Linked DNA regions of Homo sapiens. The protein of the gene in region 1 interacts with the protein of each later gene in a biochemical or structural test. Each region holds a gene or a part of one and is shown on either strand. Other genes may lie near its edges.

Region 1 (16,221 bases):
CCAGCCTGGCCAACGTGGCGAAATCCTGTCTCTACTAAAAATACAAAAATTAGCCTGGCGTGGTGGCTTATGCCTTTAATCCCAGCTACTCGGGGGGCTGAGGCACAAGAATTGCTTGAACCTCAGAAGCGGAGGTTGCAGTGAGCTGAGATCATGCCATGGCCCTCCAGCCTGGGCAGAAGAGCGAGGCTCTGTTTTAAAAAAAAAAAGCAGCCCACTAGTGAGTGACCATCCCTTAAGGAAAAGTTGGTAAACAACCTGTCCTAGGTAGCCAGATGCTTATGATGTTTACTTAGATGTATATCATCCTTTACTTGGTATAAATATAGCTGGGAAAATAATCTCTGTATTTATCATAAATGAGACTCCATCTCAGAAAAACAACAAAAAAAGATAATGTGGGGCTGAGTGTAGTGGCTTATGCCTGTAATCCCAACATTAGCTGTGTTGTAGTGTGTTCTTCCAGAAAGAGTTTATTCGGATAATTCTTGAACTTGGAATAGGCATTTTAGACAGGGCTTACTTTACTGCGCTATCCTCTTTGTCCACAAGAGGATGCTCTCTCCCCTTACATAAAAGCTCTAAGTTTTTGCAGCCCATATAGATTGATGTTGGAGGACTAAATGCATTAAGTAGGTTTAGAGAATCTTATCAGCTGTTGGTAAAAAGGGCCATTCTATATATCCTTCCCTTCCTAGGTAACATCCCACAACAAGGAACGGCGTTCCAAGCGGGATGAGAAACTAGACAAGAAATCTCAAGCCATGGAGGAGCTAAAAGCAGAGCGAGAAAAACGAAAGAACAGAACAGGTAAGCGAGGGAAATATAATGGCTACTTGTGTCTTTATATGATTTGACTTCCTGGTGTCCATTTTCATTTTGCCCTCTTGTTATATCTTTCTCATATAAAATTCCAGCACATACCCAGAATAGTATAAACATCCACAAACCCATCATCCAGCCACAGCAGTCAGCTCTTGGCCAGTCTTGTTAAATCTATAATCCTTTCATCAGATTATTTTAAAGCAAATACCAGCATTATTATATTTTAACCATAAATATTTCAGTATGTTCCTCTAAAAGATAAGTACTTTTGTTTTAAACCTAACTATAATACCATTATTACACCTAGAAATAACAATGAACTCTTTGTCAAATATCTAGTCAGTGTTCAAATTTTTCTATTTGTTTTGTAATTTAAAAAACAAGATTTTAAAAACATTTCTATTTGTTTTGTAATTTAAAAAACAAGACCACTTGAATCAGGATCTTAAAGTCCATACATTGTGATCTGTTAATACGTCCCTTAAGGCATTTAATCTGTATGTTTTCTTCCCCATCTCTTTGCCCTGCCTTGCAGCGTTATTTGCTGAAGGAACTGGGTCATTTGTCTTCTGGTTTCTCACATTGCTGACTACATCTCGTTTTTGTTGTTGAATGTGTTTCTGGTCCCTTGGGTTTCCTGTAAATGGTTAGTTAGAGCTACAGAATTGGTCAGATTTGGGTTTGTTCTGTTGTTGTCATTGTTGCTTGTTCTTGGGGAAGGCTGATTTTTAGGTAGTGGTATGTATTTCCATCAGGAGACACATGATATCTGACTGTCTCTCAGTTTGTGATGTTAACAATCCTGTCAGTTAGCTCTTACCACAATAATGTGAAGTAACAAACTAACCCCTGTTCTGCTCATGCATCTGAAGTTCAACTGCAATTCACCCTCCTGATGGCATGAGTTCAGCTGGAATTATCTCCAAGCTATAGGTGGTAGCCAGGTCTGTTCTACCTCTCTCTTCCTCCCTGGGCCAGTAAACCCCGAGCACTTTTATATGGTGATGACAGAAGTATAAAAGGGGCAAGCAAAGACACACATGCCTCTTAGGGCCTAGACTTGGAATTGGCATAGTGTCACTATGGGGCCGGGAAGAATGACTAAGGCATATAGCAAAGGACATGGGTATAGAGATGGGTGAAGAATTAGAAAGGATACTGTGGGGGCCGGTCGTGGTGCCTCACAATTGTAATCCTAGCACTTTGGGAGGCCAAGGTGGGCGGATCACCTGAGGTCAGGAGCTTGAGACCAGCCTGGCAAACATGGTGAAACCCCATCTCTACAAAAAATACAAAAATTAGCTGGCCATGGTTGTGCATGCCTGTAATCCCAGCTCCTCAGGAGGCTGAGGCAGGAGAATCCCTTGAACCCGGGAGACGGAGGTTGCAGTGAGCTGAGATTCCGCCACTGCGCTCCAGCCTGGACAACAGAGTGAGACTCAATCTTAAAAAAAAAACAACAAAAGATAATGTGGGGCTGAGTGTAGTGGCTCACGCTTGTAATCCCAGCACTTCGGGAGGCTGAGGCTGGAGGATTGCTTGAGGCCAGGAGTTCAAGACCGGCCTGGCCAACATGGTGCAAGCCCATCTCTACTAAAAATAATAAAATTAGCCAGGCCAGGCACGGTGGCTCACACCTGTAATCCCAGCACTTTGTGAGGTCAGAGCAGGCAGATCACGTGAGGTCTGGAGTTGGAGACCAGCCTGGCCAACAGAGTGAAATCCCGTCTCTACTAAAAGTACAAAAATTAGTCAGGCGTGGTAGCACATGCCTGTAATCCCAGCTACTTGTGGGGCTGAGGCACTGAAAATCACTTGAACCCGGGAGGTGGAGGTTGCAGTGAGCCAAGATCCTACCATTGCACTCCAGCCTGGGCAACAAGAGTGAGACTCTGTCTCAAAAAAAAAGAAAAAGAAATAATAACGTGTTCTGTCCTAGTAGCCACTGATGGTCATTACCTAGATAATTTAATTCATTAGGAGTTGCAAAATGGTGATATTTCGAATCTGTCATTCTTTCCTCATTCATTATCTAGCCTGCTTCTATAAAGAGAAACCTTTTTTTTTTGAGACGGAGTCTCGCTCTGTCGCCCAGGTTGGAGTGCAGTGGCGCGATCTCGGCTCACTGCAAGCTCCGCCTCCTGGGTTCACACCATTCTCCTGCCTCAGCCTCCTGAGTAGCTGGGACTACAGGCACCTGCCACCACGCCCAGCTAATTTTTTGTATTTTTAGTAGAGAAGGGGTTTCACCATGTTAGCCAGGATGGTCTTGATCTCCTGACCTTGTGATCCGCCCGCCTCGGCCTCCCAAAGTGCTGGGATTACAGGTGTGAGCCACCGCACCCGGCCTAAAGAGAAACTTCTAATCAGCTATTTAGTTACCCCCCAGGCACATTTTGAACAGGAAAGGCAAGATAAATGCTTGATTAATTTTCCTTTCGTTTACCAGTTTTTGAAAGAATGAGATAGTTCCTGGCAAGGTACAGTGGCTCACATGTGTAATTCAAGACCAGCCTGGGCAACATAGTGAGACCCTGTTTCTGCAATATTTTAAAGAGAGAGAGAGAGATAGTTTTTAGCAACTTCCAAAGATGACTGATGGGTTTTATTTATTTTGAATATCCTTGTGAACTCATCATTTTTAACGTGCTTTATGTGTTTTAATCCATTGCAGTTATTTTTCCTTCCTTCCATCCATCTTTTTCTCTCTCTCTTTTTTGAGACAGGATCTCTCTCTGTTACTCAGTCTGGAGTGCAGTGGCGCGATCTCGGCTCATTGCAACCTTCACCTCCCGGGTTCAAGCGATTCTCCCACCTCAGCCTCTTGAGTAGCTGAGACTACATGCGTGCACCACCACCTAATTTTGTTTTGTATTTTTAGTAGAGATGGGGTTTAGCCATGTTGGCCAGGGTGGTCTTGAACTCCTGACCTTAAGTGATCCGCCTTGCCTTGGCCTCCCAAAGTGCATGAGCCAACACTCCCAGCCTAAAATTTTTTTATATTATTCTTTTTTCTTTTTAAATCGTAAGTACACAGATTAACCTGCCATCTTAGATTAATGGTAGCATATTATACACAGTTTTCTCTCTCTTTTTTTTTTAGCCACCACTCCTGGTTTGTTTTTTGTATTTTTGGTAGAGATGCAGATTCACCATGTTGCCCAGGCTGGTCCCAAACCCCTGAGCTCAAGTGATCTACCCACCTCGACCTCCCAAAGTGCTGGGATTACAGGCATGAGTCACCATGCCTGGCCACGTTCCTTTTTTTTTTTTTGAGATGGAGTCTCGCTCTGTTGCCCAGGCTGGAGTGCAGTGGTATACAGTCTTGGCTCACTGCAACCTCCGCCTCCCGGGTTCAAGCGATTCTCCTGCCTCAGCCTCCCAAGTAGCTGGGATAACAGGTGCCGGCCACAATGCCTGGCTAATTTTTGTATTTTAGTAGAGACAGAGTTTCACCATGTTGACCAAGCTGGTCTCGAACTCCTGACCTCAAGTGATCCACCTGCCTCTGCCTCCCAAAGTGCTGAGATTACAGGCGTAAGCCACCGCACCCGTCCCCACGTTCCTTTTTTATAGCTGCATAGTAGTTCATTGGTAGATGTACCAGTGGTGATTTAGCCACTCTCCTATTTTAAATTTTCCTCAGAAGCTTCTGAAGTCATCATGAGTCTTTCCCCCTCTTTCCTCCCCATAGTCAAGTGTCTTGAGTGCCATAAAAGAGAACTGTCAGTAGTGTTGGTGACCCTTTCTGCCCACCTAGTATCAATCTTCCAGCCCTTTTTTCATCTGCTGGGGCCTGACATTTGGCACCTGAATAATTTTAACTCTGTGTTTTAACTCATTTCTGTATATACCCCAAGTTAGCACAATCCAGTCTAGAGAGGACGGAGCTGTGTATTTGAGTCCTCTTCCATTTCCAGTTCTTTTTCAAGGATGAATTCATTTTCTTGTTGAGAAAACCTAGGTAAACATCTCTTCTTTCTTTCTAGCTGAGCTCCTTGCCAAAAAACAGCCATTAAAAACCAGTGAGGTCTACTCTGATGATGAAGAGGAGGAAGAGGATGACAAATCCAGTGAAAAGTCAGACCGCTCATCACGAACATCATCGTCTGATGAAGAAGAGGAGTAAGCTCTTGTACATTTTGGTCTAGTAGGCAGGATAGGTGGGTTTTTGAGGAAGAGCTTGGTATCGTTTCCAAAATCTCCCTGGTTGGGCCACTAACTCTGACATGGTTACCTTTGGTTTGCTGAACTGAGTTCCCCAGCACGTCAGCCCATTCATTTGGCTGCTAGCCTGTACGCTTAGACATTTCACCTGGGCCTGGAAGGTAGGAACTGACTTCGTGTCATTCTCAGATTGGCCTGGAGCTTTCATTCATTTTCTTTTTTTTTTTTTTTTTTTTTTTTTTGAGACGGAGTCTCGCTCTGTCGCCCAGGCTGGAGTGCAGTGGCAGGATCTCGGCTCACTGCAAGCTCCGCCTCCCGGGTTCACGCCATTCTCTTGCCTCAGCCTCCCAAGTAGCTGGGACTATAGGCGCCCGCCACTACGCCCGGCTAATTTTTTGTATTTTTAATAGAGACAGGGTTTCACTGTTTTAGCCGGGATGGTCTCGATCTCCTGACCTCGTGATCCGCCCGCCTCGGCCTCCCAAAGTGCTGGGATTACAGGCTCATTCATTTTCTTACTCTGATGGGTTATCTAAGATGGCAGCCTCATTTGAAACAGCTCATACTACTGGTCAGGAACAGGATCCTATTACAAGTCTTTGCTGGTGCTTCATTTACTTCTCCTCCTAGGCCAGTCACATGTACTTTGGTTAAGTTTTGAGGAGTTGATATTATTTTTCTGTCTTGTTCTGTTTTTATGATGAACATTTTTTCCAGTGCCCCTTTGTTCCTCTTAGGAAAGAAGAGATCCCTCCCAAATCCCAACCAGTTTCCTTACCTGAAGAATTGAATCGGGTTCGATTATCACGGCATAAGCTAGAACGCTGGTGTCACATGCCCTTCTTTGCTAAAACTGTCACAGGATGTTTTGTGCGGATTGGCATCGGAAACCACAACAGCAAACCAGTTTACCGGGTTGGTATTTCTTCCCTTGGACAATTGTCCATGCTTTCAGTATAATTAGTCTCAACTGAGGGCAGGAGCTACTGAAAAAATCGATCACTCTTCTCTCAGCATTTGATGGAAAGTAGACTCCAAGTGGGATCCCCATAGAGCAGTGAGGTGCCCAGGAATCCTTCATGACTTGTTGCCAAGAGGAGGACTTGGAGCCCAAGGGCCTGGAAGATTTGGATGTAGAATAATTTTCTCTATTCTCCCTTCAGTATAAAAGGGAGAAGGGAGGCATCTATGAAGTGTTCATTGGGAGTTACATAATCTAAAAGATTTGTTCATTTGAAAAACCAATGAATGAAAAGTTTCATGTTGCATACCAAGTGACTTCTACACCAGGGAATTGTATTGAGGTTAAAAAAAACCCTCCAGACTAATACAGGTTATTATGTAGGTTCCAGCACTGCTTCTGTGGTCTAGGTGGACTGGGCACAGTGGCTTACTCCTGTAATCCCAACACTTTGGGATTTATTTATTTATTTATTTATATTTTATTTTACCATTATTATTATTTTTTTATTTTTATTTTTTGAGACGGAGTCTCATTCTGTCACCCAGGCTGGAGTGCAATGGCGTGGTCTTGGCTCACTGCAACCTCCGCCTCCCGGGTTCAAGTGATTCTCCCGCCTCAGCCTCCCAAGTAGCTGGGACTACAGGCGCATGCCACCACACCTGGCTAATTTTTGTATTTTTAGTAGAGACGGGGTTTCACCATGTTGGCGAGGCTGGTCTTGAACTCTTGACCTTGTGATCCACCTGCCTCAGCCTCCCAAAGTGCTGGCGTGAGCCACCGCACCTGGCCTATTTTTATTTTTATTTATTTGTTGTTTTTTTTTTTCAGACAGAGTTTCGCTTTTGTCGCCCAGGCTGGAGTGCAATGGCACGATCTTGGCTCACTGCAACCTCCGCCTCCTGGGTTCAAGTAATTCCCCTGCCTCAGCCTCCCGAGTAGCTAGTGTTACAGGCACCCGCCACCGTGCCTGGCTACTGTTTGTATTTTTAGTAGAGATGGGGTTTCACCATGTTGGCCAGGCTGGTCTTGAACTCCTGACCTCAGGTGATCCACCTGTCTCGGCCTCCCAAAGTGCTGGGATTATTGACATGAGCCACTGAGCCCGGCCTTATTTTTAATTTTTTGTTTTTTATTTTTGGAGACAGAGTCTTACCCCGTTGCCCAGGCTGGAGTGCAGTGGCACGCTCTTGGCTCACTGCAGCCTCTGCCTCCTGGGTTCAAGCGATTCTCATGCCTCAGCCTCCAAGTAGCTGGGACTACAGGCATGCGCCACCACGCCTGGCTGATTTTTTTTTAGACTGAGTCTCTTTTTTTTTTTTTTTAGACGGAGTCTCGCTATGTGGCCCAGGCTGGAGTTCAGTGGCACGATCTCGGCTCACTGCAAACTCTGGCTCCCAGGTTCACGCCATTCTCCTGTCTCAGCCTCCCCAGTAGCTGGGACTACAGGCGCCCGCAACCACGCCTGGTTAATTTTTTGTATTTTTAGTGGAGATGGGGTTTCACCGTGTTAGCCAGGATGGTCTTGATCTCCTAACCTCGTGATCCGCCCGCCTCGGCCTCCCAAAGTGCTGGGATTACAGGCGTGAGCCACCGCACCCGGCCTCACTTTGGGATTTAAAAAAAAATTTTTGTAGCAACAGCCTCTCTCTGTTTCTTATGCTGGTCTCAAACTCCGGGCCTCAAGTGATGTTCTGGCCTCAGCCTCCTAAAGTGCTTGGTGTTGGTTTTTTGTTTTGTTTTGTTTTGTTTTTTTGAGACGGAGTCTCGCCCTGTCATCCAGGCTGGAGTGCAGTGGCGCGATCTTGGCTTACTGCAAGCTCCCACTCCTGGGTTCACGCCATTCTCCTGCCTCAGCCTCCCGAGTAGCTGGGACTACAGGCGCCCACCACCATGCCAGCTAATTTTTTGTATTTTTAGTAGAGACGGGGTTTCACCTTGTTAGCCAGGATGGTCTCGATCTCCTGACTTCGTGATCTGCCTTCCTTGGCCTCCCAAAATGCTGGGATTACAGGTGTGAGCCACCACGCCCGGCCCAGGTGTTGGGTTTTTTTTTTTTTTTTGAGACAGTGTCTTAACCATGTTGCCCAGGCTAATCCGGAACTCCTGGACTCAAGCCATCTTCCTGCCTCGGTTTTCGAAAGTGCTAGGTTTGCAGGTATGAGACACTGTGCCCAGCCTGTTTGAGATAGGATCTCGCCCTGTTGCCCAGGCTAGCATGCAGCGGTGTGATCAGAGCTCATTGCAACCTTGAACTCCTGGACTCAAACGATCCTCCTACAACAGCCTCTTGAGTAGCTAGGACTGTAGGTGCACACCACTATGCCCAACTAATTTTTTTTTTCTTTTTTGTAGAGACTGGGTCTCGGCTGGGCGCAGTGGCTCACGCCTGTAATCCCAGTACTTTGGGAGGCAGGTGGATCACGAGGTCAGGAGATCGAGACCATCCTGGCTAACATGGTGAAACCCCTCTCTACTAAAAATACAAAAAATTAGCTTGGCGTGGTGGCATGTGCCTGTAGTCCCGGCTACTTGGGCGGCTGAGGCAGGAGAATCACTTGAACCAGGGAGGCAGAGGTTGCAGTGAGCCAAAATCATGCCATTGCACTCCAGCCTGGGCGACAGAGCAAGACTTTGTCTCAAAAACAAAAAACAAAAAAAAAGAGAGACTGGGTCTCTCTGTGTTGCTGAGGTTGGTCTCAAATTCCTGGCTTCAAGTAATCCTCCTACCTCAGCCTCCCAAAGTGCTGGAATTACAGGCCTGAACCTCGGCGCCCAGCCTGGATTGTTTTTGTTTTGTTTTATTCTTGTCTGGTTTTTATGTGTGTTATCCCCTTGTATGAGGACCTGCAGCCATGCCATATCCTGAAATGCTTGGCAACAGAAACTGACCTACATGGTCTTCACATTTGGTTGATAAAAATCAACTGGTGAAATCCCAAATACATCCCTTGTAAGTTAGAATTAGTTGGAGGAAAAGCTTCCAGTGGGCCCCATCGGGCTCCTCTTCTGCTGGCACTTTCTCCTCCTGGGCACAAGGCTCCCTGTGCTTGGCCATCTGGATTCTAAACCTGAGAAACCTTTCTCAGAACCCCTGGCAGCTGTGGACTCTACTCAGCACTCTATCAGTTGTCTGCGTTCAGGTAGAGAGACGCAAAGGAAGAGTGTTGTGGAAAGCTCCGGAAGAGTCTGGTTTTGACTGGCGTCTCTGTCCTCTCACTTAGGTCGCTGAGATTACGGGTGTTGTGGAAACTGCCAAAGTTTACCAACTAGGTGGCACCAGAACAAACAAAGGGCTGCAACTACGGTAGGAGGCACTTCTGGGGTAGCTTCTGCTTCCACTTCAAACAGGCACTGGCTTTGGGGGCTGCTGTTCTCTCTGTGTGATGTTCCTTGTTACCATGAACGCTATGTATGCAATCCCCACAAGGTACACTTGGAGGGAGACTTGTATTCCATCTTTGTCTATAGGGAAGGTAGGATATTCTCTCCTCTAGAGGGAACCAAATATATGAAGGGGTAGGACACAGAGAAAGGAAATGTGTGGTTATGAGAGACCCTCCCAGAGCCTCGCTGGCATTTCCTTGGCAAGCATGTCCAAGAGGCTTGCTTCTGGTTCTGGCTCTATGTCATAACCTCATCTGTGACAAGAAAGATCATTTTTATGGACTTCATTTCCTCTTCAGTAAAATGAAAGTGTCATTCACTCAGCAAATATTTACCGAATGTACAGTGTGCCAGGCACTGCTCTAGGTGCCATCATAGTGCACTGCAGCTTGGAACTCCTGGGCTCAGGTGATCCTCCCACCTCAGTCTCCTGAGGAGCTGTGACCACAGGCATGTAACCCTGTCCCAGGCTCTGTTGCATATTGTTGATGTTGACTGTAATGGATTTTATTGTAAATTGACTTTTGAAGCACTGACCAAGCCCATTTGGTTTCCAGTGCTAGCTTTGGGATCTCAATCTTGGCAGCTCATTAAAACAGCCTGGGATGATTTTATAGGGTAGCTAGGATTGAGAACCACTGCAATAGGTATATATAGGTGGTACATAGTCTGGTAAGGTTGCTTTGCTTGTACTACAGTCAACATGCACATTTCTTGGAGATGCTGTCTCTCTTTTATGTAGGCATGGCAATGACCAACGCGTGTTCCGTTTAGAGTTTGTCTCAAACCAAGAATTCACCGAAAGTGAGTTTATGAAGTGGAAAGAAGCGGTACGTGGCTAGAGATTACCTAGCAGTTGTTCGTGCACGTTGAGAAAATATCTTTCCAAAATCCCTTACTAATAATCTCGTATCGTGTTTTTGATCCAGATGTTCTCTGCTGGCATGCAGTTGCCCACTCTAGATGAAATCAATAAAAAGGAATTATCTATTAAAGAAGCTCTTAATTATAAATTCAATGATCAGGACATTGAAGAGGTAAGAAAACTGGTGCCCCAGAACCCGGAGGTTCATCAAGAACCAGTGTTGAGAGAACATGATTCTCTTTTATTTCCCTATATCTTGACATTTTTAGCTATGCATGAAAATGAGGGAATACTAATATTACTACCTGATTATTTATAGTTCATCAAGCTTTTTTCTATACATTCTCATGTCCGGATGAGGCTAACATAGACTGAAGTGTATTCAGAGTTCAGATGAGACAACAAATGAGGCTACATACACTAAAGTGTATTTAGGGTTCAGGGGTCTGTATTCTGCTAGGCTTGATCCTTCAAGAGTTTTCCTTTTCTAAAACATCTTGGTAAAATTATTTGATCTCTGTTCTCTTGGACAGTGGCTAGCCTTACACTACCAGGCCCTTGGGCTGCTGTTTCTTGGTGCATGTTCCTTCAGCCTGTCCCAGAAGAATCTCCGTGACCCAGGAAGCAGCATAGTATCCCTTGGAATGAACCCGCTCTCTCTCTCTCTGGGGCATGACACTGCTGTAGGAAGAGCAGCCCCTTTGTAACTAGCTGTTTGCATCCAAAATGGGCTCACTTAGCCTGTCTACAAAAATAGCTTAGGAATACCTCACTGCTGGTATCTCCTCTCTGGTACAGATTGTAAAAGAGAAAGAAAGGTTCAGAAAAGCTCCACCCAACTACGCTATGAAGAAGACTCAGCTACTGAAGGAAAAGGTAAGGAGTTGTACTCGAGCCTCTTTCCTCATCCTGTAAGGAGATGTGGAAATCAAACTTGTTCATCCTCTGCCAAGTTAGTGGTGGTAGGATTGGGAGAAAATTCTGGGCTCGATTATAAGCAACACAGTGTGTTCTTGGCACCTGGGCAACGTTCCTTGGCCATTTTCCATTCCCTAAATTCAAACTCATCTTCTGCGTGTGTGCCAGTCTTCTTACTTTCTAGTCACTTCAGTTTCCTTTGTAATAAAATAGACCCTGGGGTGGTATTTAACACTGAGTCTGAACAGACAGATGACACTGTCAAGGCCACCTGTGGCTGGTGATTTTCCATTCTTCACACTGGGTTGGGGTGGGCCTTGTTATGGTGGTTTAGCCACCCTGTGAGGCCTGGGGTTCTACTGCCACCAGGGACCCACAGCCAGGTAGCTGTATGGGAAGGTGTTCCCCACTGTACTGTGCACTACTATAATATAAATTATATCTTGTATTTGTAAAGTACTTCTACAGTATTCTTCCACATCTCCTGTCCTTTGCTCACCACATGAGATATCTTTGCCTGTGCTGGAAGTAAGGGGATACTTGATATGGAGTCAGTTGTATGTAGCCAAGAACGAACTCACACATCTCTCTATGTGTAGGCCATGGCTGAGGACCTGGGGGATCAGGACAAGGCCAAACAAATCCAAGATCAACTGAATGAGCTGGAGGAACGGGCAGAGGCCCTGGACCGCCAGCGGACCAAGAACATATCCGCTATCAGGTGTGTTATGGAGCCTATTTTTGGCCCGCAGACCTTGGCCAAAATTATCAGGCAAGCCTGTGGCCTGTACACTCTGTGCTGCACTGACCCCATAGATATCTGAGTTCAGGGCTCAGTGGTTCCCTCCCTCCCTTGTTTCACAGCCACTGACTCATCCCTCTTACCCCACAGTTACATCAACCAGCGGAACCGGGAGTGGAACATTGTAGAGTCTGAGAAGGCCCTTGTGGTAAGAAAACTTTATCTGAATCACTAAAACAAAGTTAATTAATAAACCATGACATCTTTTCTACATCTTGCCTAAGTTTATTTTTTAATTATTGAAATAACGTAGGCACTTAACGTATACACACTCTCTCTGTATGTCCACGTACATCGATATAATTTATTCATAATGAAAAGCAGCAGTCTTCTGCCCTGTCCTACCTCTTCCCACCCTTAGATTCTACTCCACAGGTATTTGTTTTTTCTCAATTTCTGTTTCTTGGTTGTTTCCCCCATATCTACTCTGGTATTCTTGAAGGGAAAAGGATAATATGCCGGGCGCGGTGTCTCACGCCTGTAATCCCAGCACTTTGGGAGGCCGAGGCGGGTGGATCACCTGGGGTCAGGAGTTTGAAACCAGCCTGGCCAGCATGACAAAACCCTGTCTCTCCTAAAAATACAAAAATGAGCCGGACATGGTGGTGCACGCCTGTAATCCCAGCTACTTGGGAGGCTGAGGCACGAGAATCACTTGAACCTGGGATGTGGAGATTGCAGTGAGCTGTCGTGCCACTGCACTTTAGCCTGGGCAAGAGAGCGAGAATCCATTTAAAAAATAAAAAAAATTAGCCGGGCATGGTGGCTCACGCCTGTAATCCCAGCACTTTGGGAGGCTGAGGTGGGTGGATCACCTGAGGTCAGGAGTTTGAGAGCAGCCTGGCCAACATGGCGAAACCCTGTCTCTACTAAAAATACAAAAATTAGCTGGGTTTGGTGGCTTGCACCTATAGTCCCAGCTGCTGGAGAGGCTGAGGCAGGAGAATCACTTGAACCTGAGAGGCAGCAGATGCAATGAGCTGAGATTGCGTCACTGCACTTCAGCCTAGGCGACAGGGCGAGACTCCATCTCAAAAAAAATTAAAAAAAAAAAAAAAGGAAAAGGATAATAGCTTTTTTTTTTTTCAGTCCCGTGCAAAGACTTATTTGCCTGTGAGCTTATGGTGAATGAGAGGAGGGGCTGGAGGTGCAGTTCTGTGGTGCATGCTTTCTGTTTCAGGCTGAAAGTCACAACATGAAAAACCAACAGATGGATCCCTTTACTCGGCGGCAGTGCAAGCCTACCATCGTTTCTAATGTGAGTGCTGAAAGAGGACATTTTAGTCAGGACCTAGATTCTAGGACACAAAATGAATTCCATTAGGAAATTAATAATGAAGTTAAAAATAATGTTTTCTTAGCTGGGATTTGCTTGTCTGAAGCTCTTGGGTCTGGATACTTCCTTTTTTATCTTGCTATAGGACATATCGGTAGTGAAAACGTGGCATGGATTTATAAAAACCTAGTGACTGATCCTCCTGTATCAGGGTGGGTTTACAGTGCAGCAGACATTAGTAATGTGTCCCTTAGCTAGGGCCTGGCTGGGCTGGGCTTGGCTTTCAAGCTTGTAATTGCCTTTTTTTTTTTTTTTTTTGCTGCTTTGAGGAAAACCCCACTAGCTGCTGATGGGTCGGCTGTGGTGCTTGTGATGTTAGTTTGGTAGGTGGGAAAGAATCTGGCAGTAGGACTCTGTGAGTGTCAAGCAATCTCTAAAACAACTTATTTTCTCTCTCAGTCCAGAGACCCAGCTGTTCAAGCTGCCATCTTGGCCCAGCTGAATGCAAAATACGGTTCTGGAGTGTTACCAGATGCTCCAAAGGAAATGAGCAAGGCAAGTGTGGTACCACCCTGTTGCCTGCTGAGTGAGGCTGCTGGCTGAGATACCGAACAAGTACCTTGTCTAGTTTGGGCTTGATTTTTCCACCTTGAGGAACAGGGAGTCCCTCTTGGAGTCCCTTCTCCATCCCAGTTATTTACAGATATAATCAACAGACAACCTTAATTCCAAACCTGACACCACTACTTGCCTAGGGCCTTGACTATGTCCTTCAGCAGCTGGCTTCCAGCCCTCAGCATCCCCTTTTCTGCTGTGTAAAATGAGGGTACTACTGTATACCCTGCCAGCTTCACAGGAGGAGAGATAACATACAAAGATCAGACATTGTAAAAGTGAAAGCTTGTTGAAAATGGCACATTTAAAAGCAGTTTTCTTGCTGGGCGCAGTGGCTCATGCCTGTAATCCCAGCACTTTGGGAGGCGGAGGTGGGCGGATCACCTGAGGTCAGGAGTTCGAGACCAGCCTGGCCAACATGGTAGAACCCCGTCTCTACTAAAAATAGAAAAAAAATAGCTGGGCATGGTGGCGGGTTCCGATAACTCCAGCTACTGAGGAGGCTGAGGCAGGAAAATCGCGTGAACCTGGGAGGGGGAGGTTGCAGTGAGCCAAGATTGCACCGTTGTACTCCAGCCTAGGTGACAAGAGTGAGACTCCCACCTCAAAAAAAAAAAAAAAAAGCAGTTTTCTGTCCAAGTTAAGTCTTTTCCTGTTGTAGTCTAACTGGTCTCAGGATTTCTGAAATCTTAGGTCAGGAAGTGACCCGTTGCTTAAGCCCACCCTTTCTACACTCATACCACAGACACAAGCCTGCCCTCTTCTCTGTGCTTGTAGCCTTCAGGAGAGAAAGCTCTTTGTCTGTGGCCTCCCTCTGAGAGAAGGAATCAGAAAGGGGCCTTAGTAGGAAAATCTAATGAACTCAAATAAGAGCTTCGTACCGTTAGTGGCTGCTGCTGCTTGAAATCCACTTGCATTTATGCTCTTACCATTAGCTTTCCTCTTCACATTCCAGGGTCAAGGCAAAGATAAAGATTTGAATTCTAAGTCAGCCAGTGACCTCTCAGAAGATCTGTTCAAAGTACACGATTTTGATGTGAAGATTGACTTACAAGTTCCCAGCTCAGGTATGTGAGGGTGGGGCGGGTGGTGAGGGCTGAGAACCAGATGGATCCATGGTTTTCTGGGGCAACAAGGAAGCCCACTTTTAGGGAAGAAAGGGGAATGCTGGCTCATCAGCATCCACAGGCCAGGCCAAGACAGGCTGTGGGTATGGTGAGAGGGAACAGGGCCACAGTCAGGAGGCTGCCTGCAGGAGTGTAGCACAGGACTAAGAGGACTTTGTGGGACCTCAGCTGCCAACTTGCTCTTCTTTCCCACAGAGTCAAAGGCTTTAGCCATCACCTCCAAGGCTCCGCCAGCCAAGGATGGGGCTCCAAGGAGATCTCTGAACTTGGAAGACTACAAAAAACGACGAGGGCTTATTTGAGCACACCCAGCCTGCTGCTTCTGACCCTGCATGCCCCATCGCAGCGTCCCACCTTTCCTCCTTTCCTTTGATTTAGCCTCTTTGGGCTGGAGCAGCTGTTGAACTGGGAAGAGACTCTAAACTGCCAGTCATCTGTAATATAAACCATTTGCTGTATAGACCTCCTTTGTCTGCACACCATCTCCCACCAGCCTCCCCTCCCCCAGGGCCCCACCCAGTGTGGGCCTGGGCTCTCTTGGGCTTTATCCATGTCTTTAGATTTGTGTTTGCCTTTTGTTTTTTTAACCGCGCAGTTCATTGGCCACTCTGCACGCATTCAGTATTACCATGGAGCTGGGAATCTTGCTGGAGCCCCTGGGGCAATAGCAGCAGCACCAGGCGGTCTCCTCTACAGACTGCCTTGGCCCACCCATTGAACATTCGGCACGTGACCTTGTGGGGGGAGCGGGGATTGGGCACCTGCGATCCTCTTTCCTCTCTTCATCTTTCTCTTCTGCCCTTCTTTTTGGAAGAAGGGGTTTCAAAACCAGTTTAGTTTCCAAAAAGTGTACATTTGTGGGGGGGGGGGGTCTAATTTGAGAGCGAGAGTGTGTATGTGTGTGTGTGTAAGTGTGTGGATTTTTTTATCATTTTTTTAAAATGCAGTACTCTTTGTATCAGTCTGTCATGGGTCTATAGCTGTTTCAGATTTTTTTCAGCTGTACTTGAGCATCTGAAACTGCAAGAAAGAAACTCATTAAATGTGATTCTTCTTACTAAACAGGCCTGACTGCTGTAGCTGTGTAACTTCCCCATTCCCACCTACTCTTCCCATCCTTTCCCAACTTTGGAGAAAACTCCCCAGTTTAGCCCCCTGACCTGCAGGCTGTGTCCTGGCAGGTGTGGGAGGGAAGCCCATGGCCAGGTACCAGGGAGGGCAGTGAATGTCTTGCTCTTCCCATGGGTACAGCCCACAGCTTCTTGGCTGAACGTAGAA
Region 2 (16,221 bases), on another chromosome or scaffold:
ATTACAACAAGATTGTGGAGCACCAGAACCTGAGCAAAAAGAAGAAAAAGAAGAAAAAGCAGCTCATGAAAAAAAAGAAATTATTAGAGGATGACTTTGAGGTAAATGTTAGCAATGCATGGTTTCAAGCAATGTACACTTCCCACTTGTTCAATGTGCATCCCTCAGATCCCAATTTCAAGAAAACAAAAGCTGTGGAAAAAACCCTTGAGGAGAAAGCCTGGCAAAGAGAACAGAAAAAACAAGAACTTACTCAGGCAATAAAGAAAAAAGAGGGCCAGGCACAGTGGCTCACGCCTATAATCCCAGCACTTTGGGAGGCCAAGATGGGTGGATCACCTGAGGTCAGGAGTTCGAGACCAGCCTGGCCAACATGGTGAAACCCTGTCTCTACTAAAAATACAAGAAAATTAGCCAGGCATGGTGGCTGGCACCTGTAATCCCAGCTACTCGGGAGGCTGAGGCAGGAGAATCATTTGAACCAGGGAGGTGGGGGTTTCGGTGAAGTCCACTGATCCTGCCTTGTCAATGTTTATTAAATCTGTAAAAACCAAAACAGAGCAGTTTCAAGCAAGAAAAAAAAAGTCAAATAACTGGATGTTATTTCTTTTTGAATTGAAAACATCCCCTAAAATATACAGAAATAGTAGGAGAAATATTTATTGGGAACAAAGCTACCTTTCAAGAATATGAATAAAATCTCATTCTAAACATAGTAAAATTTTTCTTCATAAATAGTTGTTCTTAATTGTGGATGACTGACAAATTTGTATTGTATATTCCTATAGATTAGTCATAATTAAATCAAATTACCTGAATTGTAGGGTTTATAAAATGTTTATATTTTATGAAGTTCAATTCCAACTAGTGGAAAGTTACTCTAGCTTTCTGGTTTTTTTGGGGGGTAGTGGGGGTGGGGGTGGGGGGGGGACGGAGTTTCATTCTTGTCACCCAGGCTGGAGTGCAATGGCATGATCTCAGCTCACTGCAACCTCCACTTCCTGGGTTCAAGCAATTCTCCTGCCTCAGCCTCCTAAGTAGCTAGGATTACAGGCAAGCGCCAACACGCCTGCCTAATTTTTTGTATTTTTAGTAGAGATGGGGGTTTCACCATGTTGGCCAGGCTGTTCTCAAGCTCCTGACCTCAGGTGATCCGCCTGCCTCAGCCTCCCAAAGTGTTGGGATTCCAGATGTGAGCCACCGCACCCAGCCTACTCCAGCTTTTTAAAAGGCTGTTTACAATTCTATGTAAAAATAGAGCAGTATCTACGCTTGTTTGTTTAAAGGTTAGGGATAATTTGAAATATATATATATATAATACATTAATTTCTCTGGGAGCAGGAGGCAGATTTAAATAGCTATTAAAATAATTTATTTTTCTAGCCATAAAAGATGGAAGAACTTTTTGTTGTTTATCATGTTAAGTTTGTTTATGAAATTAATTTGTAAATAAAAGAGCAAAATATTTTTATTATTTTTGTATAGCACTGATTTATTTTATACATCTCAAACTATTCTCTGGAAAAATTTTAAAAGAGAGGGAAATGCTTACATTATGGTAGCTAAGTTAAAAGAAGAGCATAAAATAGTTTTTACAGTACTTAATTCCAACTATACACAGAAAAAAATTCACTAAATATTGCAAACAACAAAATACTGGTAATTGTTCTCTTTGGAAGGCAGCTTAATGGATGACTTAAATTTATTACTCATATTTTTCTGTATTTTCCTAATTTTTCTATAAGCCATTACTACTGCAATTCCACTGTTGGGTACATAACCAAAAGAAAGGAAGTAGAGTCTCAAAGAGGTATCTGTACACTTAAGTTCACAGTAGCATTATTCACAATAGCTAAAAAGTAGAAGGAACCCAAGTGTCCATCAACAGATGAATATACAAAATGTGGTATGAACATACAATGGAATATTATCCAGCCGTAAAAAGTAGGGAAAGTCTGACATATATCACAACACAGATAAACCTTGCAGATATTATGCTAAGTGAAATAGGCCAGTCACAATAAGACAAACATTCTATGATTCTACTTATATGAAGTACTTGGTATAGTCAAATTCTGAGAGTCAGAGAGCAGAATGGTGGTTGTTGGGCTGGGGAGAGGGGAATGGGGAGTTACTGTTTAATGGGTAAAGAGTTTCACTTTTGCAAGAGGAAAAGTGTTCCGGAGACTGGATGTACAGCACTGTGAATGCTCTACTACTGAACAGTACACTTAAAAATAACTGGTTAAGTTGGGAAATTTTAGGTTACATATAAATTCTACCACAACTACTTTTTTTAAAACTTAAAAAGAGAACTCAGCAAGAAAAAAAGCTAATATGATTTTTAAAAACTTAATCTATACAAGATTATAAATTTCTGAAGTTCTAAACTGAAGAGAATTACCAGAATCAAAGGTCTCAAAAACAGAAAGGTTATTTCTCTGAATGAAGATGACAAAGCATTATTAAAGTTAAATGTTATTCTTAAGTTGTGGCAAGAACCTAAATACTAATAATGTTGCAGTTAGAATAAGGTATACTGAAATTCCGTAAGAGATGATAAAATACCAGTTTATCACCACTTCAAAGATCAAAGGTTCATGACACCGGTAAACTATTAACATGCCTTCCAACTCAAAGGCCCAAAGGAAGACAAAGCAGCACCATCCTCAGAACAGCAGCGTTCTACTCACTTAAGGCCTTCAGATGAAAATGGTTTGAAAACTCCTGCTATACTTTATATATACTTAATTCTGATATCCAGGGCCCCAAAAGTGGACATGAATCTTTTGCTCTCTGGGAAAAATTTTAATCTCCTCTTGGGTACGTAGTAATCAAGAGTTACACTTATTTCTTTTACATCTGTTATTTCCATGAGAACTTTGAGAGTTTTCTATCTGAAGCGAACACTTTGTGATTCTAAGAAAATCATACTGGCTCCAACTTTAGGCTGGGTTCCTTTTGCTAAAAGAAACAAACTTGGTATTTATGTTTTTTGTCTTAGCTATTTATAATTTGATTATGTAAGTATATCACTTTTACTTTTTAAAGAAGTTTTAACTTTTAAATAACTATTTATACTTAATACTTTCTAATAGATGGCATTTTTTAGGGTGCAATTTTTATTGTTAAGATATTTCTACCTGATTAAAAGAAAATAGAGCAATTCAAACTCAGAATTTTCTGAGACCACTTTTATCAGTGTTGATGCATTTTAGTAACAATCAGTAGTAAAACTGCTACAAAATGAAACATGGAAATACACAACTGTGACTTAATGAGGCTTCAAACAGGTAAAGGACTTCAGACTAGTTAAATTAAGTATATCTGAAAATAGAGATTACATGTCTGTAAACAGTAGAAAAGAGGCAGAAGCTCATATAACATTTTCCATATGTGTTTAGAAAAAGGAAAACAAAGGCTGGGCGTGGTGGCTCACGCCTGTAATCCCAGCACTTTGGGAGGCTGAGACAGGCAGATCACGAGGTCAGGAGATCGAGACCACCCTGGCTAACACAGTGAAACCCCGTCTCTACTAAAAATACAAAAAAATTAGCCAGGCGTTGTGGTGGGTGCCTGTAGTCCCAGCTACTCGGGAGGCTGAGGCAGGAGAACGGCGTGAACCCGGGAGGCGGAGTTTGCAGTGAGCTGAGATGGCGCCACTGCACTCCAGCCTGGGCAATAGAGTGAGACTCTGTCTCAAAGAAAAAGGAAAACAAAAATATTTGCATGTATACACATAAAATACCTAAGTTTCACAACAAACTAGTAACCTTGCTTTACTTTCAGGGAGGGAGAACGAGGTGGCCACAGGCAAAAGTGGGAATGGAATTTCCTACTCATAAACTTTTGTACTTTTTCAATTTTTAACCACAAAAATAACTACCAACAAAATTTGTTTTAAGTAAAGGCCCCTTTAGAGTTTAGTGATGCTATTTTTTAAGTGCTTAATGTTCTATCGGTGAAAAAATCAATTCCCCAAATCTACTATCTGAAACATAGTAAGTTGTCCCTTAAGGAGACAATCTTGAGTTTACAGCAGATAACATAGCACAAAAACCTATTTGGCAAATGAAATTAAGACAGTGATAAAAAAAATTTTCACATATGCACATGCAACCAAAATAACTATAACACGGTTTTCAGCTGTTAAAGAATAAAAAGGCTAGTCATATCGTACATAAATGTAAGTTATCAATATTACAAAAAGGAACAAATTATCCAGAAGACAGTTAAGCCTAAAGTACTCATAAGCCATGTGGAGGAGCGTGAAGAACTTTCCTTAAATTATATAGTCCTGCAAAATAAAAAGGATTATGGCCAATTTACCTAGTAACCAATACAATTGCTTATGAACTTTTAAAAAAGAACATGGTCATTTTATTAATTCTTATATTTTATAAATTTTGACATAGCTTTCATAGTAACTATTTCTGTGAAAGTATAAATATATCAACTTGGTTTTAGTTAACTAGAATCAGTATTAAGAAAGCATTCTGACAAGGCACAGAGGCTCATGCCTGTATTCCCAGTACTTCGGGAGGCCAAGGTGAGAGGATCATTCGAGTCTGGAAATTTGGGATCAGCCTGGACAATGCAGCAAGACCCCATCTCCGCAAAAAAATAATAATAATTTTTTTTAAAAAAAATCATTCTTACACTTAAGAAAGAAATCTTATCTCCTCTTGAACTAGTCCCCAGTTATCCATGGTTTTGCTTTCCATGGTTTCAGTTATCTATGGTCTGAAAATATTAAATGAAAAATTCCAGAAATAAACAATTCATCAGTTTTAAACTGTACATTGTTCTGAGTAGCATGAAGACAGCCTGTACCATCCTACTCTGTCTCACTTGGAATACAGATCATCCCTTTGTCCAGTGTGTGTCACTGTAATGCTACCTACCCATTAGTCATCCACATCATCAGGGCTCGATGAGGCAGGACCACCTGAAGCAGATGAGCCTCCTTCTGATGGATCATCAGAAGGTCAACAGCAGCCTAACACTTAGTCACAATGCCTACATCATTCACTTCGCCTCATCTCATCAAATGAACAGGGGTGAGTACAGTGCAAGACACTGTGAGAGACAGAAAGACTACACTCATATTACTTTCATAACAGTATCTTGTTATAATTATTCTATTTGATTAAGTTATTATTGTTAATCTCTTCCTATGCCTAATTTATAAATAAAACTTATCAGTACATATGTATCGGAAAAAACGTGGTATACATAGGGTTAGGTACTATCCGTGGTTTCAGGCATCCACTCAGGGTCTTAGAACATATCCCTCCATGGATAAGTGAGGGACTATCATACTGGTAATTATCTTTGCTATTTATTTTAAAACAGGAGTTGCAAGCATTTTTATATAAAAATAAGAATCTATAAACAATCACAAACCTGTGTGTAAGTGCAATTCTTCTTTTTACATTTGCCACATGTGAACAAGTCAGTCTGGGTCCCACCAGTCTTGGCCATCTGATGCTCTCTGATGGCTTCTTTGGTCAAGTTTTTCCGCATCTCTTTCAGCTCATCACTAGCCATTTCCTATGAGGTAGGGGGCAATACCACTCAGTTATAGACACCTTCTATATATATCCTGAATGCTTTTATGCTCAATTAGCCTAATAATAATAAAACCACATATCAACCTTTAAGGTTTTAAAAGCATTAAATTAATATTTTTCCTCAAAGGCTTTGTAAGAGTTTAATTCCTTTTAAAAATTTCTTCAAATACTTAAAAGTTTACATGTGAAAATTGGATTTAAGTACTGTTTAAAGGCTACTAAAACCACCTTTGCAAAGATTATGACAGTGAGAGAAATTGAACATGGCTGACTCCATCTTGCTTCTAGTGTCACAGGCTGGCTGTCTTCCCTCTTTCCTGGGCACAGGCCAAGTTAACCATGGAAGGAATTTAGTTTAACTTTGATGCAAAGATGGTAACAGTCCTTCCCTAAAATCGATCCCTCCTTGTTCAGAGCCTGAGATCACCTTTGTTAAGACTAATGAAATGCCAGAGGATTAGGATTATGGGACAGGCCTGAACTCTGCTAAAATGTAGACATAGTTTCTATAATCCCTCACTGCTCAGGAGTCATGTGGCCAGAGGACACAAAGTGTGTGACTTCCCCAATTGCTCCTATAGGTAACATTATTATTGTAGAACCTGAGATTGGTTTTTTGAGATGTTTTTCAGACTGACCCCTCCAGAACTCAGGCCCCTCACCCAGAGGTACAGAAGGACCAGTTCCCACATCCCTATGATTGCATCCCCAATCAATCAGCAGCACCCATTCCCTAGTCACCTAGGAATAGTTACCACCAAACTATTCTTGTAAAACCCTAACCTCCAAGTCTTCAGGGAGACTAATGTGAGTAATAACTTCGTCTCCTGCATGGCCAGCCTTGCATTAATAAAACTCTTTCTTAACCGCAATAGCGCAGTCTCAGTGAATTGGTTTTGTCTGTGTAGTGGGCGGGAAGAAGCTGTCAGGTGATTACACTATGAACAATGTAAACTTACAACGAGTACCTCTAGTATCCAGATTATAGTTTCTAATAGCATTGCCTACACCCCACTCCCAAAAGAAGTCAGGGATCTCTGGAGGAATGCCTGATTCCAGTTTTGAGGCAAGAAATGTATAGAATATGCCAGGGTCATCTTCTCACGCCAGTTTTTACCAGCTACAGTCATACTTTGCTTTATCTTGCTCTGCGCTATTGTGCTTCATTTTATTGCACTTTGCAGTTACTGCATTTTTTACAAATTGAAGGTCTGCAGCAATGCTGTGTTGAGCAAATCTATTGGCGCTATTTTTCCAAAAGCATGTGCTCATTTCATGTCTCTGTGTCACATCTTGGTAATTCTCACAATATTCCAAGCATTTTCACTATTATTATATCTGTTAGGTAATCTGTGATCAGTAATTTCTTATGTTACTATCACTGTTTTAGGGGCACCACTAACTTTGACCACATAGGACAGTAAGCTTGACAAATGCTGTGTGTGTTCCGACTGCTCCACTCTTTCCCCGTCTCTCTTCCTCTCCTTGGGCCTCCCTACTCCCTGAGACACAACAATATTGAAATCAGGCCAATTAATAACCCTACAATGGCCTCTAAGTATTCAAGGACAAGGAAGAGTCAACATGTCTCACTTTAAATCAAAACCTAGAAATAAGACTAAGTTTAGTGAGGAAGGCATATGGAAAGCTGGGATAAGCCAAAAGCTAGGTCTCTTACACCAGTTAGCCAAATTGTGAATGCAAAGGAAAATTTCTTGATGGAAATTAAAAGTGCTACTCCAGTGAACACATGAATAATGATCAAAATAGCCTTATTGCCGATATGAAAACGTTTTAGTGGCCTAGACAGAAGATCAAACCAACCACAACATTCCCTTAAGCCAAAGCCTAATCCAGAAAAAGGCCTTAACTCTTTAATGCTGAGAGAGATGAGGAAGCTGCCGAAGAAAAGTCAAGAGGCTACCAGAAGCTGGTTCATGAGGTTTAAGGAAAGAAGCTGTCTCCATAACATAGTACAAAATGCAAGGTGAAGCAGCAAGTGCTGATGGAGAAGCTACGGCAAGTTATCCAAAAGATCTAGCTAAGATCATTGATGAAGGTAGCTATTCTAAACAAAGATTTTCAATGTTGATGAATATTGGAAGAGGGTGACATCTAGGACTTTCACAGCTAAAGAGAAGAAGTCAACGCCTGCCTTCAAAGCCTCAAAGGACTTTGAAGGACTCTCTTGTTAGGGGCTAAAGCATCTGGTGACTTCAAGTTGAAGCCAATGCTCATTTACCATTTGGAAAATCTTACAGCCCTTAAGAATTATGCTACCTCTACTCTGTCTGTGTTCTATAAATGAAACAACAAAGCCTGGATGACAGCACATCTATTTACAGCATGATTTACTGAATATTTTAACCCCACTATTGAGACCTACTGCTCAGAAAAAAGATTTCTTTCAAAATATTCCTACTCATTGACAATGCACTTAGTCATCAATATGCCTAGTCATCCAATAGCTCTGATGGAGACATACAAGGAGATTAATGTTATTTTCATGCCTGCTAACAACAACATTGATTCTGCAGTTCATGAATCAAGGAGTAATTCTGACTTTTTTTTTTTTTTTTGAGACAGGATTTCACTCTGTCACCCACGCTGGAGCGCAGTGGTGCAATCTCAGCTTACTGAAACCTCCACCTCTTGGCCTAAAGTGATCCTCCCACCTCAGCCTCCTGAGTAGCTGGGATTACAGGAACGCACCACACCATGCCCAGCTAAGTTTTCTTTTTTTTTTTTTTTTTTGTAGAGATGGGAACTTGCTATGTTGCCCGGGCTAGTCTCCACCTCCTGGACTCAAGTGATCTGCTCATCTCGGCTTCCCAAACTGCTTTGATTACAGGTGTGGCCACCATGCCCAACTGACTTTCAAGTTTTATTATTTCAGAAATACTTTTTGCAAGGCTGTAGCTTCTACAAAAAGTAATTCTTCAGATAGATCTGAATAAAGTAAACTGAAAACCTTTTGGAAAGGATTAACCATCCTAGATGCCATTAGGAACATTAGTGATTCATTGAGAAGAGGTCAATATGTCAACATTTAGAGGAGTTTGAAAAAAGTTGACTCCAATCATCATGGATGACTTTGAGGGGTTTGACTTCACCAGAGAAAGTAACCACAGAGGGGCCAGGCACGGTGGCTCACGCCTGTAATCCCAGAACTTTGGAAGGCCGAGGCGGGTGGATCACCTGAGGTCAGGAGTTTGAGACCAGCCTGCCCAACATGGTGAAACCCTGTCTCTACTAAAAGTACAAAAATTAGCTGGGCTTGGTGGCGGGCGCCTGTAATCCCAGCTACTCAGGAGACTAAGGCAGGAGAATCGCTTGAACCCAGGAGGCAGAGGTTGCAGTGAGCAGAGATCACACCACTGCACTCCAGCCTGGGCGACAACAGTGAAACTCCATTCCCCACCAAAAAAAAAAAAAAAAAAAAAAAATGAAAGTAACCACAGATGTAATGGAAAAAGCATGAGAAGGAAGATTAGAAGTAGAGCTTCAAGATGTGACTGAGTTGCTTCAATCTCATAATAAAAGCTGAATAGATGAGATGCTTCTTGTGGAGGAGCAAAAAGTAATTTCCTGAGATGGAACCTATTCCTGGTGAAGATGCTGTGAACATTGTTGAAATGACAGCAAAGGATTTAGAATAATATGTCAACTTAGTTGATAAGGCAGCAGCAGCATTTGACAGCACTGACTCCAATTCTGAAAGAACATCTACTATGGATAAATGCTATTAAACAGCATCACAGGCTACCAAGAAATATTTCATGAATATTTGCTCCATCAATGCATCAAATCTCACTGTTGTCTTATTTTACAAAATTACCACAGCCACCTCAACCTTCAATAACCACTACCCTAATCAGTCAGCAGCCGTCAACATCCAGGCAATTCCCTTTTCCAGAAAAATAGTATGACTTGCTGAAGACTCAGATGATCATGAGCAATTTTTAGCAAGGTGTACATTGTTTAGCAAGGTATAAGGTGTACACTGTTTTCTTAGATGTAATGCTATTGTACATTTAGTAGATTATAGTATAAGCATAACTTTTATATGTACTGGAAAGTCAAAAAATTTGTGTGACTCGTGTGTCACTTTATTGCAGTAGTCCAATCCAAACTTGCAATGTATCTGAGGTATGTTTGTGTACAGAAGAAAAATTCACTCTCTTCAATGTTCACTAAAACGTTGAAATTGTAGATACAATATAGCTAATATCTATGAACAACCATGTCTATAAATAGCAAGCTATAAATTTCATTTTTTCCATAATTCCCTGTAAAAATTTAAGAAATAATCAATAGGATGGGCACAGTGGCTCACGCCTGTGATCCCAGCAGGAGATTACAGGAGCAGGAGAATCTGAAGCAGGAGAATCGCTTGAACCCGGGAGGCAGAGGTTGCAGTGAGCCAAGACTATGCCATTGCATCCCAGCCCAGGCAACAAGGGCAAAATTTCGTATCAAAAAAAAAAAAGAAATAATCAATATGATGTGACCAATTTTATAGTGTTTAACCACAAAAAAGGTTAGCACTTACAAAGTGTACTTGCAATTAAGAGATTCAACTCTCTGGTTCTACACTAATTCATAAAAAGTAAAAAACACTTGGTGGCCAGCCGTGGTGGCTCACACCTGTAATTCCAACACTTTGGGAGGCCAAGGCGGACAGATCATCTGGAGGTTGGGAGTTCGAGACCAGCCTGACCAACATGAAGAAACCCTGTCTCTACTAAAAATACAAAAATTAGCTGGGTGTGGTGGTGCACGCCTGTAATCCCATCTACTTGGGAGGCTGAGGCAGGAGAATCGCTTGAACCCAGGAGGGGGAGGTTGCGGTGGGCCAAGATCGTGCCATTGCACTCCAGCCTGGTCAACAAAAGCAAAACTCTGTCTCGAAAGAAAAAAAAGTAAAACACGTTTGTTTTTAGAAAATAATTTAGTGTAATCACATTAAAAGCATGGAAACAGTTGGAGGGGGAGCAAAGTACTGACAAAAGACACAATCACCTTAAGTATTTGTCTAGTATATAAATATATCAGAATAACGGAAATTTATTACATATGCAATATTTATATAGTAGTCTATGATGATAATAGGCTTTACACTTCACAACACAGAATCACATTATAGAAACCTCAGATTCACACATACTCACCTCTGCTGTCATTCTAGCAAATAAGTCAGGAGGAATATTCCCACAGAGGACATTTTTCCTTAAATTTGGATTTTTTGCATCTTTAAGATTTGATATCCTACTTCGTACTCTATTTTTGTATTTCATGTCTGTATTCCTTATTTCTTGATATATAGGTACCAGGCCGTTAAGGAAAAAAGGCAAAATTACAAAAGTAAGATCACTTTTTTTTCCTGTTCTGCCAAAATAAGAATTCCTGAGGCCAGGCACGGTGGCTCATGCCTGTAATCCCAGCACTTTGGGAGGCTGAGGCTGGTGGATCACGAGGTCAGGAGATCGAGACCATCCCGGCTAACATGATGAAACCCCGTCTCTATTAAAAACACAAAAAATTAACCAGGCATGGTGGCAGGTGCCTGCAGTCCCAGCTACTCGGGAGGCTGAGGCAGGACAACCACTTGACCTGGGAGGCAGAGGTTGCAGCGAGCTGAGATCAGGTCACTACACTCCAGCCTGGGCGACAGAGGGACACTCCATCTTAAAAAAAAAAACAAACCTGAAATTTCTAAGCAATTCACGACAACTGTTTCCAATTTAGAGTATGTTAAAAACAAGGTACTATATCTAATTCCTTGAGCTGTAATTGGCGAATAATAGTGATATTACTTTTACACTGTAAAGTAGTTGTTTGTTTTGAAGGTGGGTAGAAGGAGTCTCACTCTGTCACCCAGGCTGGACCTCAGCTCACTGCAACCTCCACCTCCCGGGTTCAAGCAGTTCTCCTACCTCAGCCTCCCGAGTAGCTGCTGCGATTATAAGCGCCTGCCACCATGCCCGGCTAATTTTTGTATTTTTAGTAGAGACGGGGTTTCACCATGTTGGCCAGGCTGGTCTCAAACTCCTGACCTCAGGTGATCCACCCGTCTCGGCCTCTCAAAGTGCTGGGATTATAGGCGTGAGCCACCGCGCCCGGCCTAGTCATGTTTTATTTCCTAAATGTTTAGTGCCAGCAGTATGCAAGTCAACAGGGTTTCAAAAAGTAACTCAAGTACTCAACATGAGAAAGCACATGTTTGAAAAGGAGCTTGAACTTATTCAAGCTTTACTTGCCCAAATCCGAATTCTACTAAGGATCCTAAAGTCTCTCTGGTCACACAGTTCCCACAGGGTCTCTGAGAAGAGACCATTCAGCATGGCCGTGAGGGTTCCTCTCCTCCCCCAGCTCAGCAGGAGCTACCTCAGCAGGCTCTTCTTCTCTGCAGAAGAGGCCACTGCCAAAGCTGAACCCTGGAACAGCTCCCTTCCTAATAAGGCCATTTCCTCAACCAGGACAATCTCATGTTACACAGCCACCTAGATGCTCCCTGCCCCTACTCACACACAGTACCCCTCTCCTGGAGCCCTTTCCCGGTGCTTAGCAAGAACACGCTTCCTCTGGGATAATGAGCTCAGGTGACTGTGTGTGCTCTGAGGTCCCCCTAACTGAGAAGTCTTCACATTTATATGTGTGTGCTTTCCATGCCCTTTTGCACAACTTAAATTCAGACACTACAGTCTCAATCTACAAGGCAGAAAAATTTAAATGTCATAAATGCCATCAATACTGTACTTTCCTTTTCAATAACAGGAAAAACAAGACAAATAAAATGACATAGATGTCCCTCTCCTTTCCAAGAAAACAATACAATCAAGATAAAAAGTGAAGAATAAGACTTTGAATTCTATACCAACAGGAAAAATTAAGCTAGCAGATTACTTAAAACAATTATGACCACTTGAAGTTGTGTGACACCAAGAGACCTTTCTGGCTGGTAGCAGAAGTAATAGATGTCACTCCTCAGCAGTAGTTTTGAAAGCCAGTATGCAATTTATCCATTTTACCTTCTGCCACATCACCACTCACAATGGCCAATCCACCTGCCTGGTCCTAGAGGACAATGACCCAAAGCCCAGAGTCCTCAGCTAGCCTGTGATGAACATATAGGACAAATACATTCCTGTTTGTCCAGTTTAATCTGTGAAAGAAACCTCTGTGGTGTTAAGCCACTGAAATTTCAAGGTTGTCACCATAATATAACACAGCCTGTCCTGCCAAGTACATAAAGTCAATCTTGGACACTCATGTTTTGCTAGGAAAGCGAAATTCTTTAGGTTTTCAAATTGCCAACGAGATACACCCAATGTTCTCATGTATTTTGTAATCTCTTCTAATTATGTTATCGGTTTGCCTTTCTTGTTCTCAATCATATTTTCACTCTCCTGCTATCTGAAGCAATTTTACTAGGGATTTATATGTTTCAGTTTCCAAAGAGCCAGGTCCTTTTAAACTTCGCTGTTTCTAGTTCATTCAGCTTCAACATGAAGGAAAAAGTCTAGCGTGGTGGTCAAGGTCATGGGCTTGGAGCCAAATTCCCTACAATGGAATCCCAGCCCTGTCAGTGTCAGGCTGTGTGATCTAGAACAATGACCAATCCTCTTCTGCTTCTGTTTTCTCTCTGTAAAATGGGATGAGAGCACCTAATTCATTGGAAGGACTACTGCATGTAAAACCGTGCCTGGCATTTGCATATGTTCAATAAATATTACTTATTAAAAAAAACAATTATGAATATACACACAAAGGATATCTTCTTCAATTTGAGATCCTAATTCTTCCTCATCAGCTCCAATTGCAATGTAGTCATCTAAAAATAGGCATAAAGAATTGTCAAATTATTGTAACAGATTAAAAGAAAATTCTAATACCAGGTAATTAAACTGCATTCCTATTTCTTAAACCCCATTTGCCTGACATAAAGAAACCGTTCAGTTTAGTTCGTTAGAATCTGATCACTTCACTGCCCGCTAGACTTCTTTTCTGGGCTTCACCTGATACCCACAGTGCTCCTGCACTGATGATTCCTGATCCCTCAGGCACAGGAAGTAACTGATCTAGCAGGCAATTCATTTTTCGTAACTCCATAAATTCTGGCTGCTCCAGCAGAGTAGAGAAAGTTACAGAAAGAACTGTCTAGTCTCCTGTGACTCAGGCTTCAATGCAAAGAAATCATTTAGTTAATCTGCCAATCACATATACAGACACACTCAGAAGACTGCTATACAAATATGCAAGAGGATAGAAGGAAATAAACTAGGCAGAAAAAATAAAAGAGACAGTCAGGAAATCAAAGTAGAAAGGGCAGAGTAAGGAGAAAATCAGGTCAAACTAGCCATGGTGCAGAATGAGAGAAAAGAAAAAGGATGAATTCGTATAAAATAACAAATATTCCTGTATATAAAACTTTAAATCCAAATGTTACATGTTAAGACTGGATACTTTCAAATTAAATTAAGCTCCCATATATAAATCAAGACTCACCCTCCCTTTTTCTAACTAGAAAATGGAAAACATTCATACTATATGTCATACTATTCAACAATTCAGTATTGTTAACTCTCAATATAAGATCAGGGTATGTAGTTTGCAGATTAAATTGTGGGGAAACAAAAGATTTGTGAGAAAAAAGTGTACATTACTATGAAATCAGGGAAAACATCCATGTATTAGAGGGAATCTATTTCTTACAATTACATAGTAATAAGCAAATGCCCCAGTATTCCTCCTCCTCTCCCCCTTAACAGACCCGTATCAGCAACAACTTCTCCCCAAGCTAAGCAGCAGTGGGTGGGCTATCCACAGGGTAACACTCATCAAACAGCAATATGGAGTTGGAGATGGCAGTGGTTGTGGGTGGTGACCAAAGGACTGAGAAATAACATGCACTGGACTTACCCCCTGTTCGAAGAGCTGCAGCAAGCATCTCCCTACACTTCAACCGCACAGAATCAGAAGTGCTTGGTGCCCGAGGAAAGGATGAAACATAAGTATCTCGAGCATTTGTCTCATCCTTTCTGTTGCTTACATTGCCGCTGGAAGTACTGAAATACGCACAAACACCCCAAAAAGAAATCAAGAACAATCCTTTCAAAGTAACAATACTACTATCATGCTGTAAAAACAAAATTTGGGGTCTAAATAAATGACACAGTATCTCAGTGACCTTTATGTGATGGAAAAAAAATTGCCTGCATACAGATTAAAAAGAAGTTAAAAATTTTACAATTTAGTAAAGTGACAAGTATGCCTTTTTTTTGAACTAAACATTTTATCTTTGATTCTCATTTTAAATATTAAGCAATATTTTTAATAGAGAAAATACCCATTATAGCTCAGTACAATAAATGAAAAGCAATGATCTTGGTATAAGGAGAGGGATGAAGGGATGGGACCAGAGAATGACAGCTTTCTTTTTTGAGACGGAGTCTTGCTCTGTCACCCAGGCTGGAGGGCAATGGTGCAATCTCGGCTCACTGCAAGCTCCACCTCCCAGGTTCACACCAGAGAATGACAGCTTTCAACCAAAACTAGAGATAGAGAGAGAGAATGCTTGAAAAACTCTGTTTCACTGGGCATGGTGGCTCACAGCTGTAATCCCAGCACTTTGGGAGGCCAAGAGAGGCAGATCACTTGAGGCCAGTAGAGTTCAAATCCAGCCTGGGCAAAATGGTGAAACCCCGTCTCTATTAAAAATACAAAAATTAGCTGGGCGTGGTGGCACACGCCTGTAATCCCAGCTACTTGGGAGGCTGAGGCAGGAAAATCGCTTGAACCCAGAGGCAGAGGTTTCAGTGAGCCAAGACTGCACCACTGCACTCCAGCCTGGGTGACACAGCGAGACTCCACCTCAAAAAAAAAAAAGAACAAAAAGAAAAAGGAAAACCTTGTTCCACTTAGACAGTGAGTTCCCCAGTGAGACAAATACCATGTGTACTGATGAGTCATGAGGCTACAAAATGGTGTGTTTCTCCCCAGAAACATCACCTCGATATGAACATTTAGGCAGTTTTATAATTTTCCAGTCAACCTAATCCTTTCAATTGCTTCTGAGTAGCTTCTTACGTTGGATTATCACTAAAATGGGTTCTTTCCAAAATAATCTTCATGATTACAATTAAGCTTTATCACATTGAAAACAGCTGCCATAACCCTTTTCAAAGACTGATTAAATCATCCACCATCCATAGATGTGGTTTGCTGCAATGCTACAAGAACATACTCCCTTGCCTTCTCTCCAAAACATAACCACTGTTAAACTTCACAAACAGGTGCCTGTGGGTCAGACGGACATTAGTACCTTTTAAATTTAGTCAGTTCCTTTTTGAAGCCTTCACTGATTTCCCCCTGTATTCCCAAAATATTGATTCACACAGGTTTGTATATGATAACTTTTCATACATTTTCTTCTCTATCAGACTGAGTTTCTCAAGAGCAAAAACTAGGATTTACTTTTCTTTGTATTTTCATTATGTAGCATAATGCCTCTCAGTGATAAATGAATGAGCAAACTAATGCTTAAAAACCCATTTATTATTTTTTTTTTTAAGACTCCAGCCTGAGCAACTGAGCAAGACTTTTCACAGTGGTGAAGAGAGCAAGAGTTGTGCAGTGGTGCCATCA

The links.
Region 2: the proteins of RTF1 (region 1) and TCEA1 form a complex in vitro, tested with the Homo sapiens proteins (one study listed by BioGRID).

What each region holds. Positions count from the first base shown.
Region 1 is NC_000015.10:41,465,443-41,481,663, forward strand, and holds part of RTF1 (RNA polymerase-associated protein RTF1 homolog), read left to right. Parts: intron 1-698; coding exon 699-810; intron 811-4,814; coding exon 4,815-4,950; intron 4,951-5,729; coding exon 5,730-5,907; intron 5,908-9,177; coding exon 9,178-9,260; intron 9,261-10,082; coding exon 10,083-10,170; intron 10,171-10,269; coding exon 10,270-10,377; intron 10,378-11,003; coding exon 11,004-11,081; intron 11,082-11,722; coding exon 11,723-11,844; intron 11,845-12,015; coding exon 12,016-12,073; intron 12,074-13,105; coding exon 13,106-13,183; intron 13,184-13,660; coding exon 13,661-13,756; intron 13,757-13,984; exon of another isoform or gene 13,985-14,049; intron 14,050-14,771; coding exon 14,772-14,883; intron 14,884-15,138; coding exon 15,139-15,245; 3' UTR 15,246-16,221. UniProt on the Homo sapiens protein: Component of the PAF1 complex (PAF1C) which has multiple functions during transcription by RNA polymerase II and is implicated in regulation of development and maintenance of embryonic stem cell pluripotency.
Region 2 is NC_000008.11:53,973,618-53,989,838, forward strand, and holds part of TCEA1 (transcription elongation factor A protein 1), read right to left. Parts: intron 14,643-16,221; coding exon 14,497-14,642; intron 13,409-14,496; coding exon 13,352-13,408; intron 10,901-13,351; coding exon 10,746-10,900; intron 5,555-10,745; coding exon 5,408-5,554; intron 5,081-5,407; exon of another isoform or gene 4,906-5,080; intron 1-4,905. Other genes in the region: LYPLA1-TCEA1 readthrough, read right to left, coding at 5,408-5,554, 10,746-10,900, 13,352-13,408, 14,497-14,642.